Linked DNA regions of Homo sapiens: region 1 is linked to region 2. The links come from fine-mapping of genetic effects on gene expression. Tissue or cell type: whole blood. Region 2 holds a variant in brackets; the other region holds the start of a gene. All regions are shown on one strand. Distances are between the middles of the regions.

Region 1 (6,185 bases), 53 kb after region 2:
GGAATCATACAGAAAGCTACAAAGTGGTAGTGTAGTAATCTGTTTTCACGCTGCTGACAAAGACATACCTGAGACCGGGCAATTTACAAAAGAAAGTTTTATTGGACTTACAGTTCCATGTGGCTGGGGAGGCTTCACAATCATGGTGGAAGGTGAAAGGCACGTCTCAGATGGAGGCAGACAACTGGAGAGAGCTTGTGCAGGGAGACTCACGTTTGTAAAACCATCAGCTCTTGTGAGACTTATTCACTATCACAAGAACAGCACGAGAAAGACCTGCCCCCATGATTCAATTACCACCTACTGGGTCTCTCCCACAACACGTGGGAATTCAAGATGAGATTTGGGTGGGGACACAGCCCTACCATACCAGGTAGTAAGTTCTCCCTTAACCTCAGGCTTTCAGTTCTTCTCCACAGAGCCTGACTAGTTTCTTGTGTATTGCTCTAGAGACATCCTAAAGCCAAACAAGTGGGCATGCATACACATATGTATATTTTAAGGGGCTACATTAAAAATATTTACTACAAGTACAACCAACTGGAATGAAGGCCCATGGTATATAGGATGTGCCAAAATGCCTACTGCATATTATCAGCCTTGCATGTATTCCTTGCTTTTATACACTAGTTTGCTTAAATTGCTTTTATCATCTAGTAATAATTTGGAGATTGTTCCACATCAGCACACGTAGAGCAACTTCATTCTTTTCAATGGTACTGTATTTTAACCACTTTCTACAGAAGGATCTTTAGGTTTTCCCCAGACGTTTGTTACTCGAAACAGTGCTCTAACAAATATCTTTACACAGCCTTAATTTATCTGTTGCATAAATGTCTAGACAAGGAAATGCTGGGGAAAACAGTATGCACATATAAAGTTATGACTGGTATTATTACATTTCCTTCCAAAGAGGTTTATCGTTTTTATCCCCACCAACAATGTAATGAGGGTCTACTTCCCAAACCCATGCTAACTCAATATATCTTTACCAGCCCAAAGGATGAAAAACAGTGTCTCACTGATTTAATTTGTATTTAATCTAAGATTAAATTTTAAGTTTTGTAAAACCAAGTTTATCTCTGTAATTGGAGAAAACATCATCCATTAACGTGAAAGGTAATAAGCTGATGAGACTAAATTCAAAGCAAAAGCTCGCTGAGAGGATCTGCCCAATGAGGAAGATGACAGTAGTGTCTGATTTTTTGCTCAGTGCCACCTCCTCCTTTTCCAACAGATAGCATTTGGGAGTGCTGAGTTATAAGAAAGTGTGGTGCGCTCGAGGCTTGCTTGAGGGTATGGAAATCTTGAGATAGGTCTGGAGAACCAGGGAGAGTTAAAAGAGAAAAAAAGTAAGAAAAAAAAAAGAACTTAAGGACTATCTGATCTGAGAGAGGCTTACAAAAATTAGCGTTTTGGTTCACTATTTCTCGCTATTTCTGCATTTCATTAACTGGCAGGGATCACTGGATACTCTGTCATGAATACATATGTTGGGTGTAGTTAGAGAACCTCAATGTCATTGAACCCGTCTTGTGGGTTTTTTGGAGAGAATGAGAGTATGCTGGGAGACATGCTCTGCTTGCAAATGATCAACCCCCGAGGCCAACCCCATTCATCATTTATTTTGAGGAACTGATGATCAAGACAGGAATATGTATGCCTGCCTACAAAATCCTCAAATCAGGCCACTGAATGTTCGACATGAGAACTTTGAATCACATAGAAGATACTCCAAAGGCAGAGAAAAATAGAAAGCCTTCCGACGCCCTGAAAAAATCTTGACCATCCCTGACTTCCCCCAATATGTAAGAAAACCTGTATTATTATTACACACACACTCCCACACACACCCCGCCCTCCCCCACACACACACCCTCTATCCTCACTCGATCTTATTCTATTCGCTCTATTTTTGAGCCTTGGATGTTAAAGTAAGGAACGAAGCTTAGTGGGGAAGCACTGAAGTGCATGGCGCAAATTTAGATTTAAGCCTCACGTTAGATTTCAGATTTGCACATCGAGTCCCGCCCCTATCCAATCCGGGGACGTCACCGCCCTAGTCTTCGGCTGTTTTAAAAGCAAGCGGTTTTTAAAACCCCCAATCCTGCTCTTTGTGTTGGCCTCCTCGGAGTTGCCCCTCTGCAAGCCAACAATTCGGGATAGAAAACACCTCCGTGGTGTTTTCCCGGGGCCCTCCCGCGCCGCGTTCGGCCGCCAGCCCGCTCGAGCTCCCGCGCCAACGCCTCAGGGGTTCGCCCTCCGCCCCCCGCCGCCGCGCCCGGCCCACGCGCAGGGCCCCTCTCCAGCGCCCCCTCCCCGGCACGCTGCGGCTGGCGCTCCCCAGCCCCGCCTGACGCTGCAGCTGGGCCGGAGACTCGCCATTGGATTAAAAATAGCGTCGCCAGTCCGCCCCAAGCCCGCGGTGCCCGCTCCCGCCCCGCAGCCCGCTCTCCCCGCCCGCCCCGGCTCGGCCGGCTGCCGTTGCCCGCGCAGCCCGCCCGTCAGCCCGCTCGCTGGCGCCGCCGCCGCCGGCAGACCCCGCGCTCCGGCTCCGGCTCGGCTCGCTCGGCTCCGGTGCGCGCCGAGGCCATGCAGCGCCGGGGCGCCCTGTTCGGCATGCCGGGCGGCAGCGGAGGCAGGAAGATGGCTGCAGGAGACATCGGCGAGCTGCTAGTGCCCCACATGCCCACGATCCGCGTGCCCAGGTCCGGCGACAGGGTCTACAAGAACGAGTGCGCCTTCTCCTACGACTCTCCCGTAAGTGAGGCGCCTCGGGGGAGGGTCGCGGGGCCGGCGGCCTGCGGCACGTGAAGCCGGGGGAGAAGATGCGCAGTGGCGGCCGGGACCTCTTCTCTTCCTCCGGGCGGCAGAGTTGGCTCAGGAACACTGCAGTTCGGCAGACACTTAGTGAGCGCCCCAGGGCTGCTGCAGCCGAGGACTGGCTCGTGCTGGTGGTTTTGCTCCGCCAGCCTCCCCAGGCTGGAAGGGCCCGATTCCCAGCAGCTTGCACACAGCCCCGCCGCCGTTTAAAGATAGATGAAATACAAGAGTTCCCTGTTCCGAACTGCACGTTGCAGATCGTTTGCGTCCTCCGCGGGGCAGAGCGCAGGGCGGGTAGGTGGACGGGATGATCCCCCCACACCCCGGGACACACACAGCCCTTCTTTTTCTGGGACCACTTGCTTTGCTCAGGGATCCCCACTTCTGGACAATTCTGATTTGCTCTCTGAGCTTTTCTTCCACCAGTTCCCATTTCACCCCACTCCTTTTCTTGTCTTTAGAATGTCAGGGCCAGGCGCGGTGGCTCACGTCTGAAATCCTAGCACTTTTTAAGAGGCGGAGGCGGGCGGATCGTTTGAGGTCAGGAGTTCGAGACCAGCCTGGCTAATATGGCGAAACCCCATCTCTACTAAAAAAGAACCCCAAAATTAGCCGGGCGCGGTGGCGGGAGCCTGTAGTCCCAGCTACTCGGGAGGCTGAGGCTTGAGAATCGCTTGAACCGGGAAGGAGGAGGCTGTAGTGGGCCGAGATCGCGCCACTGCCCTCCAGCCTGGGCGACAGAGCGAGACTCCGTCTCAAAAAAAAAAAAAAAAAAATGTCAGACGAAACCTTCCGGTGCCTCCACTCGGGCAGCAGAAATAGGGGATCTACTGGATTGCGATGGTTTTCTTAAGCCTTCCCCACCTTGCCCTTCTAAATGAGTCACTTGGACTGACATGCGCAAGTATAAATTATTAAAAGTTCAATCCCGAGTCGTGACCTCGGAGAATGAGGAGGAAGCTGAGAGGGATCGCCGCCTTCCACCCGGGGCGGTTGGTGGTGGTTTTCACCTGGTTCTATGTGAATGTGTGAGAAGCAGCAGGAGGGTGAATGTCCCTTTCAAAAGTCAAAATGGGCTTCAAAGTGACTCAGCTGTCTGGCGTTTATCATGTCTTTTTGAGGACCAGGTTATTTTTATCCACCCACTTTAGATCTCATATGTCACCCGGCAGATCTCAATGCATTGGGAGGCGCATGGATTGGATGGACCGAGGCAGGTCTCGCAATGGTCTAATGTATTTTATTCATAGCATGTGGACTATTGTCAGAGGGGAAAAGAAAAGTCCAAATGAGCGGCAACATTTCCAAAGTTTCCTTTATTATCTGTGGGTTGATTTTGGCTGGCTTCAAAGCACTTTTGCTCGACACACACTGGAGTATCAGAGTTAGTATCCTCTCTGTGACATTTAGTTTTTTTATTTATGGTAACTCCATATCATTTGAGGGATGAAACCTAACTTAATTTTTGATTGTTTACTTTTTTTTTCTTTCGAAAAGATCCACAGAGTGGAGTGTGACAATCGGCAGTCCTTTTTTAGGATGTTATCCATAAATTATTTGAAAATGCCATTTTCAGATTGTATGGCCAGTGTTGGGCAGTTCCCACTAATAGCTTCTAAAGGTGGAGAGGGATGATGGTCCTAACTTAAGCAATTGACAGATTGTTACCTCCAGGAAGAAGAAAGTGGCCTAAGTTTTTTAGGATAGCACAACATGGAAAGTGGGTCAAATGACTTTCCCCATGTTTTGATTTGGGCTCTTCTTCAAGTTCTGCTTACAAACTTTGCTCTTGGAAGTTTTTGCTGCATAATGCAGTGGATAACAGGTGTGGGAAAAAAGGCTGATTGTTTTAATTCATTTCCACAAATAGTTATTGGGAGCTTACTGTGTGTGTTTCTAGAATGTTACTATTCTAGAAACATCTCGTCCAGTGTAGACTGATGATTGCAATCATATCACAGCAGTTCCTTAGGGGAGACTGGGATTATTTACAAGGCTGATGAATCAGTATATTTCATTATCTATGTTTCAGGGGAGGAAGGGAAGGTTTGATAATATTTATCTTAAAGCACAGTGCGTGATAATGGGAAGGTTTTTTTTGTTTTGTTTTGTTTTTTTTTTGAGTTTTGCTCTTGTTGCCCAGGCTGGAGTGCAATGGCACAATCTCAGCTCACTGCAACCTCTGCCTCCTGGATTCAAGTGATTCTCCTGCCTCAGCCTGCCAAGTAGCTGGGATTACAGGCGTGTGCCACCACACCTGGCTAGTTTTGTATTTTTAGTAGAGGTGGGTTTCGCCATGTTGGTTAGGCTGCTCTCGAACTCCTGACCTCAAGTGATCCACTCACCTTGGCCTCCCAAAGTGCCAGGATTACAGGCGTGAGCCACTGCACCCAGCCAGTATTTTGTTATGGTATGTAACACTATACTATGAATCCAATAAGGGATTCTTCAGCACCTACTATGTGCCATCTCATACATGCATGACTGTAAGGAGCATAAAGAGCAAAATCCATTGGTGCTAAACACGCCAGAAACTTTAATCCACAAGTGCCACGGGATGTCTTAGGGAAAAGGCCAAAACCAGCTGAGTGGAAAAAAGAAATCATCCCTGCATTGGTTACTGTTGAAAAAGGTTATGTACAAAGATGGCTAGAAAATAAGGGAGATCAACATTCAAGGCCAGGGAAATTATATGTGCAAAGAAGATACAACGTGTGAATATTTCCCACTAATTTGCCTGTAATGTATTTGGAATAAAAAGATACATTTGGCAAGTAGCAAGAAGTGAGGTAGAACCAAGTAGAGAGTAGATGATGGGGGCCTTGAATCTGGAAAACATTTGATCTTGATTTTATATGGTCAGTTATGGAAAGCTATTCTTGGTCATGTGATTTAAAGTGGTGTTGGAGGAAGATTGTGAATCAACAAATTCACAGTGTACCTACCATGTCTAAGGCACTGTCTGTAGACCTTTGCCATTCTTCACCTTTGTGGGATATGAGTAGTGTATTAGTATCTCTCTTCCCTTCTTCCCACCTCCTAGGGCTTAACACATAGCAGATGCTCAATAACAGCTATTTTGGGATGAGTGAGAATTTGTTTTTCACCTACCTCTTTGATTTCATCCTGGACCCACCCTCCCACCTTGACGTGTAGGTTCACCTCTCCATGGTTTGGTTCATTGTGCAAGGTCTGTAATGCACCTTCCCAGTGGAGCTTCTTTTCAAGACTGAATTCAAGTGGTTCTTGCTCTATGAATCATTTCCATATTGCCTTCCACCAGACCCCATAAGCATTCCTGTCTAACCCCCAGTGACATGTTCACGTGCTTGTCTCTGCCTTTGAGTGCGACCTTCCTGGAG
Region 2 (6,032 bases):
GGTTTGGGAAGCCAAGGTGAGTAGGTCACTTGAGGTTAAGAGTTTGAGACCAGCATGGCCAACATGGTGAAACCACATTTATACCAAAGATACAAAAATTAACTTGGCATGGTGGTATGTGCCTGTAATCCCAGCAACTTGGGAGGCTGAGGCAGGAGAATTGCTTGATCCTGGGAGGTGGAGGTTGCAGTGAGCCAAGATATCACACCACTGCACTCCAGCCTGGGGGCGACAGAGTGAGACCCACCTGACACACTGACACACACACACACACACACACACACACAAACAAAAAAAAAAAAACAAAAAACACGTTGCAGGTAGAAATGAGGAATGACTGCAGGTGAGTATGAGATTTCTTTTAGGGGCGATGGAAATGTTTCCAAAGGAGCTATGATGGTTGCACTACTCAAATTTACTAAAAATCAAACGAATAAGAAAAAAAAATCTATTTGACAAGAAATACAGGAACCACATACTCACTCCTTTTAGCTGTAATCATGTATACCAGTCTCCAGCCTCTCCCAATCCTTACCTTATCTAACCGCTCTGGACTTGGCATTGGCAATCTCTGCCGCTTGGCCTCCTGCTCTAGGGTTAGAAGCATGTTTCTTTCTTTCAGTAAGACATACCTATACAAAAGAACACAAACCTTGTGATGCTATTCTGTGGTTATGTTAATAAAGTTGTGATTTCTGACATCAAAATTAATTATCTGTACTTGAAAGTCACTTAGAGGCGAGGTGCTGTGGCTCACACCTGTAATCCCAGCACTTTGGGAGGCTGAGGTAGGAGGATCGCTTGACCTTGGGAGTTCAATACCAGCCTGGGCAACACAGCTAGAAAAAATAAACATCACTACAAAAAATAAAAAATATAATTAGCCGGGCATGGCAGCACACACCTGTAGCCCCGGCTGTTTGGGAGACTAAGGCAGGAGGATTGCTTGAGCCTAGGAATTTGAGGCTATAGTGGGCTAAGATCACACTACTATACTCCAGCCTGGGGATAAAGTGAGATCTTGCTTCAAAAAAAAAAAAAAGACATATTAGAAATCTCAATATATAGAATATGATTACAAAGAATAATCCATTATACATAAACTATCTTTGCTTATCCATGTGTTCAATAAACCTTCCATTTGCCACATGTATTAAGTGCTAAGAGAGCTACAAAGAGGCATAAAACATAGTCCTTACATTCTGAGTGGAGAGTAGAGAAGGCAGATGGAAGATAAATAACATTTACTGAGTACCTATTATATGCCAGACAATGTGTTAAACATTTTATATACACTTATTTCATCTAGTTTTCACAACCACCTTCTGAGGTTGGTATTATTTCCACTTACTTAACGAAGAAGCTAAGGCTGAGAGAAGTAAGGTATTCTGGGTCATACAGGTAATTCAAGATTCAAATCCCTGATCTCTGTGTATAAAATCCATTCTATTTTAACTCCACCACGCTGCTTCTGAAACTGTAATGTGATGTGGGATAATAAGTGGGACAGGCAATAAGTACCAGAAGAATTAAGTGGGGGAGATGAGAAACATCTCTTCTAGCTAAGATGACCAGGGAAAGAGTCATAGAGATGGAATTTATGATAGAAGGGAGAGCAGAGCAAACATAATCAAAGGTACTGAAGCAGCAGAGCTAAAGTGAAGGCAGATTTTCTGAATACATCTATTTGGGAATACGAGTTGGGGCCAAGTGCAGTGGCTCACACCTGTAATCCCAGCACTTTCAGAGGCCGAGGCAGGTGGATCACTTGAGGTCAGGAGTTCGAGACCAGCCTGGCCAACATGGTGAAACCCCGTCTCTACTAAAATACAAAAATTAGCTGGGCATGGTGGTGCGTGCCTGTAATCCCAGCTACTCAGGAGGCTGAGGCAGGAGAACCTGGAATGGAAGGCGGAGGTTGCAGTGGGCTGAGATCGTGCCATTGCACTCCGGCCTGGGCGACAAAGCGAGACTTTGTCTCAAAAAAAAAAAAACAAAAAAGAGAAATGGCATAACTTTAGTTGGTTGCAGCCATGATGAATGTTGAAATAGCCTTAACTATCCTTTCACTGATAACCCACAGTAACTAATAGTGCTTTAATACAACTTATTTTTCTATAATGAATAAACATAGTATCAGTGGTTTTCATAAACACTTCACAATTCTTTAATTTGTCATGAAAGATAAACAATGCTTTACATCAACAAACATAAATGTTGGCTGGGCACGGTGGCTCATGCCTATAATCCCAGCACTTTGCGAGGCCAAGGCAGGCGGATCACTTGAGGTCAGGAATTCAAGACTAGCCTGGCCAATGTGGTGAAACCCCATCTCTACTAAAAATACAAAAATTTAGCTGGGCATGGCAGCATGAGCCTATAATCCCAGCTACTTGAGAGGCTGAGGCATGAGAATTGCTTGAACCTGGGAGGTGGAGGTTGCAGTGAGCCAAGATCACGCCACTGAATTGCAGCCTGGGTGACAGAGTGAGACTGTGTCTCAAAAAGATAAAATAAAAAAAAGCAAATGTCTACTAGAGTCCCTAGGCAGATAACAATTATGAAGGAAGTAGACATAGTGAAAGAACCACAGGGTGGCCGAGAAGTGGTGTGTCCCTGCTCCATCTAGAAGGGGCAGTTGCTCCACACACCAGCCAAGTTGTTGCCATGTAGGAATGCAGGGCCGGTGTTGCCAAATCACAGGTCTCATTATTCAAGAGCCGACAAAAATAATATTTTCTGTGTGAAACTTCCCAATTTAAAAAACAATTACAGTCCAAACAAAACATATCTTTGGGCTACATATAGTACATTAAAAATGCAACCCTGTCTTAAATCCTCTCAACCCTAATTCATCAGAGCCTGCCAGAAAAATCTACCTAAATTCTCAATTAAATGCATCCTCCAACACACCTTTCCAAAGCAAATACACTAAAGATTACAGATCATGAAAATGTAATAAAAAGGAGAGAATTTTAAATATAACCAATGGCTGGGCACAGTGGCTCATGCCTGTAATCCCAGGATGTTGGGAGGCTGAGGTAGGAGGATCACTTGAGCCCCAGTGAGAGCAGCCTGGGTAACATAGGGAGACTCCCTCTCCATAAAACGCAAAAAAATTAGCTGGGTGTGGTGGTGCATACCTGTGGTCCCAGATACTCAGGAGGCTGAGGTGGGGGATCACTTGAGCCCAGGAGGTCAAGGCTGCAGTAAGCCGTTACTGTACCACTGCACTCCAGCCTGGGCAACAGAGCGAGACCTTGTCTCAAAGAAAAAAACAAAAGCCACCAACTATTCTCTGTTTCATTTTATTAATTAACTGAAATTGCTAGTATAAACATGTTAGTAGGACCAATGTAAATTACAGTAAAATTTCTGAATTCCCAACTACTTGAGAATTGTGACATTTGTCATAATCTAACCTCTGTCATATAAAATCTTTCATGATCTTAAACATCAGATTTATCATCCATAGTACTACAAAAGAAATCGCTTTACTCAATTTCTTATATCAGATAGATTGTTTTCACCTCATTGTTACACTATAACGGCTTCAAACGTCTAGATGTTAATGTACTTAGTATACTTACCAAAGTTTGTGTAAATCTTCATTACTTTTGTTCCTTAGTTGCTGACAGGTCCATGCTGCTCCTATTAAAATAATACATAACATGAAATAACATTTCTAGCCATGTGCCCTTTGGCAAATTATTTAAGCTCTCTAAAC[C/A]TGTCTAAACCTGTTTCTTTATCTGTAAAATATATAACAGCTTTTTTATAGTATATAACAATGTGTAATTAGAGATAAATTAGGTAACATACGAAAATACTATTAACATGACTGGCAATAGCATTCAAAAAATGTTAGCATTAGTACAGAACGTATTTTCACACCCTAATGACAAAATACTTTGTCATTATAAATTAACTGGGGCGGTGGTTCACACCTGTATTCCCAACGCTTTGGGAGGCCAAGACGGCGGGCATCACCTGAGTTTGGGAGTTCAAGACCAGCCTAACCAAGATGGCGAAATCCTGTCTCTACTTAAAATACAAAATTAGCCGGGCGTGGTGGCACGTGCCTGTAATCCCAGCTACTCAGGAGGCTGAGGCAGGAGAATCACTGGAATCCGAGAGGCAGAGGCTGCGGTGAGCTGAGATTGTGCCACTGCACCCCAGTCTGGGCAACAAGAGCAAAACTCCATCTCTAAATAAATAAACAAACTTTAAATTATCATTAAAAAATAAAATCTAAAATAAGCCCTAAACCTTACTTTAGTTAATAATTTCAGCCTATTCCTTATCTAACCATCTTGCCAATCTGCCAAGGAACAATTAACTCTACTATTATATTGTCCCTTTAATTTTCTCTAGTAGACAGTCTCAAAGAAAACTGAAAAAGGAAACATCTAAATAATTCCTAAACTGGATATATAATCCTAGAACGATGGTTGGGCGGGGCGGGGGGGGGGGTTCCATAAATATATCTAATGTTGACAAATCCAAGTATCTCACCAGATTTTACTTTTTCTTGCCCCCAGTTTTTTGGGTCATCAAAAAATTCTTCTAGTCCTTTCCTTGACAATGTGGTATGAAGTAATCTATATTGGTGAAAGGATGTCACATTTGGTGTACTCTTAGGCAACAAACTAAGAAAAAACCTGCAATTGAACACACATAAACAAGTAAAAGTTTTATAATATCTGGATTTTATAAGCAATAAACATTATCATAATAAACATAATCATTTTGTCATCGATAACATTTTAAAAAGCTACTCAGGGTTTCTGCACAAGAATTAATTTTTTTTTCTTATTTAGAGACTGGGTCTCACTATGTTGTCCAGGCTGGTCTCGAACTCCTGGGCTCAAGTGATCCTCCCACCTTGGCCTCCCAAAGTGCTGGAATTACAGGGATGAGCCACCATGCTTGGCCACAATAAATTTTGAAAATGCTTTAGAAAGTATTGTTAATACTGCATTATAGAAGCTGCTACCTTATAATTTCAGAGGTAACATAGTTACACAATTATATTTTAAGGTAACATTTTTGGGTCCTTCTTACATTGCTAATGGGTGCAAGCGCAGGTAAAAAGAGCAGTCAATTTTGCAACATGTGGGCTGGGCACGGTGGCTCACACCTGTTATCCCAGAAATTTGGAAGGCCGAGGTGGGAGGATCACTTTGAGCCCAGGAGCTCAAGACCAGCCTGGGCAAGATGGCAAAACCTCATCTTTAACAAAAATACAAAAATTAGCCAGGCATAGTAGCACGTGCCTTATAGTCCCAACTACTCGGGAGGCTGAGGTGGGAGGACGCTTTGAGCCTGGGAGGCAGAGGTTTCAGTGAGCTGAGATCACACCATTGCACTCCAGCCTGGGCGACAGAGTCAGTCCCTGTCTCAAAAAACAAAAACAAAAAAACCTCACAATTTTGCAACATGTATCAGGAGCCTCAAATACTTCCTCCTTTAATTCAGTAATTCTGCATCTAGAAGTTTCAACTGAAAAAATTATTATAGATGGGAATTTATAAATTAAGATGTTTATTAAAGCACTATATAGGATGTCAAGTTTTTAATTATGTAAATACGCAGCTAAGAATGGTTTAAAAATTACTGTGCATCTGGATGATAAATTATTATGCAGTAATTCAAAAATCCTGTTTTTAAAAAATAGTTAACGACCTGAGATGATTTGAAACTAAATAATGAAGTTTATCACAAGTGTTGTATCCCTACCAAAAATATTTAGCCTAAATCTTATAATGAGGAAACAATCAGACAAATCCAAATGAATAAGATTCTTAAAAAGCTAATCTCATCAAAATGTCAACAACATTAAGAAAAAAAAAAAAAAGAAATTGTTCCGGATAGAGACTAAAGAGTCATGGCAACCAATGTAATAAATGGATACTTCACTGGATCCAGGACCAAGAAAAATAAATAAATAAAAGAAGTTACTAAGTTACCAGTTACTTTCATTGTAACACATCCTGTAAATACAAATATCTCTTCTTTTTTAATCCATCCAAACT

Evidence for each region. PIP is the estimated chance that this variant, and not a neighbour inherited with it, causes the effect.
Region 1: USP13 starts here. The variant in region 2 is fine-mapped to the expression of USP13 in whole blood (TOPMed, PIP above 0.99).

What each region holds. Positions count from the first base shown.
Region 1 is chr3:179,650,634-179,656,818 of GRCh38, forward strand. It overlaps USP13 (ubiquitin specific peptidase 13), which reads left to right and starts at 2,407. Exons shown (of 21, transcript NM_003940.3): 1 at 2,407-2,760. The coding sequence starts at 2,593. RefSeq lists silencers at 2,139-2,218, 2,229-2,568 and an enhancer at 2,237-2,880.
Region 2 is chr3:179,598,140-179,604,171 of GRCh38, forward strand. It overlaps MRPL47 (mitochondrial ribosomal protein L47), which reads right to left. Exons shown (of 7, transcript NM_020409.3): 2 at 4,513-4,658; 3 at 3,591-3,651; 4 at 536-632. Among named protein-coding and RNA genes, the nearest start is that of MRPL47, 3.5 kb to the right of the region's middle. RefSeq lists an enhancer at 5,789-6,032. The variant C/A (reference allele first, on the strand shown) is at 3,728.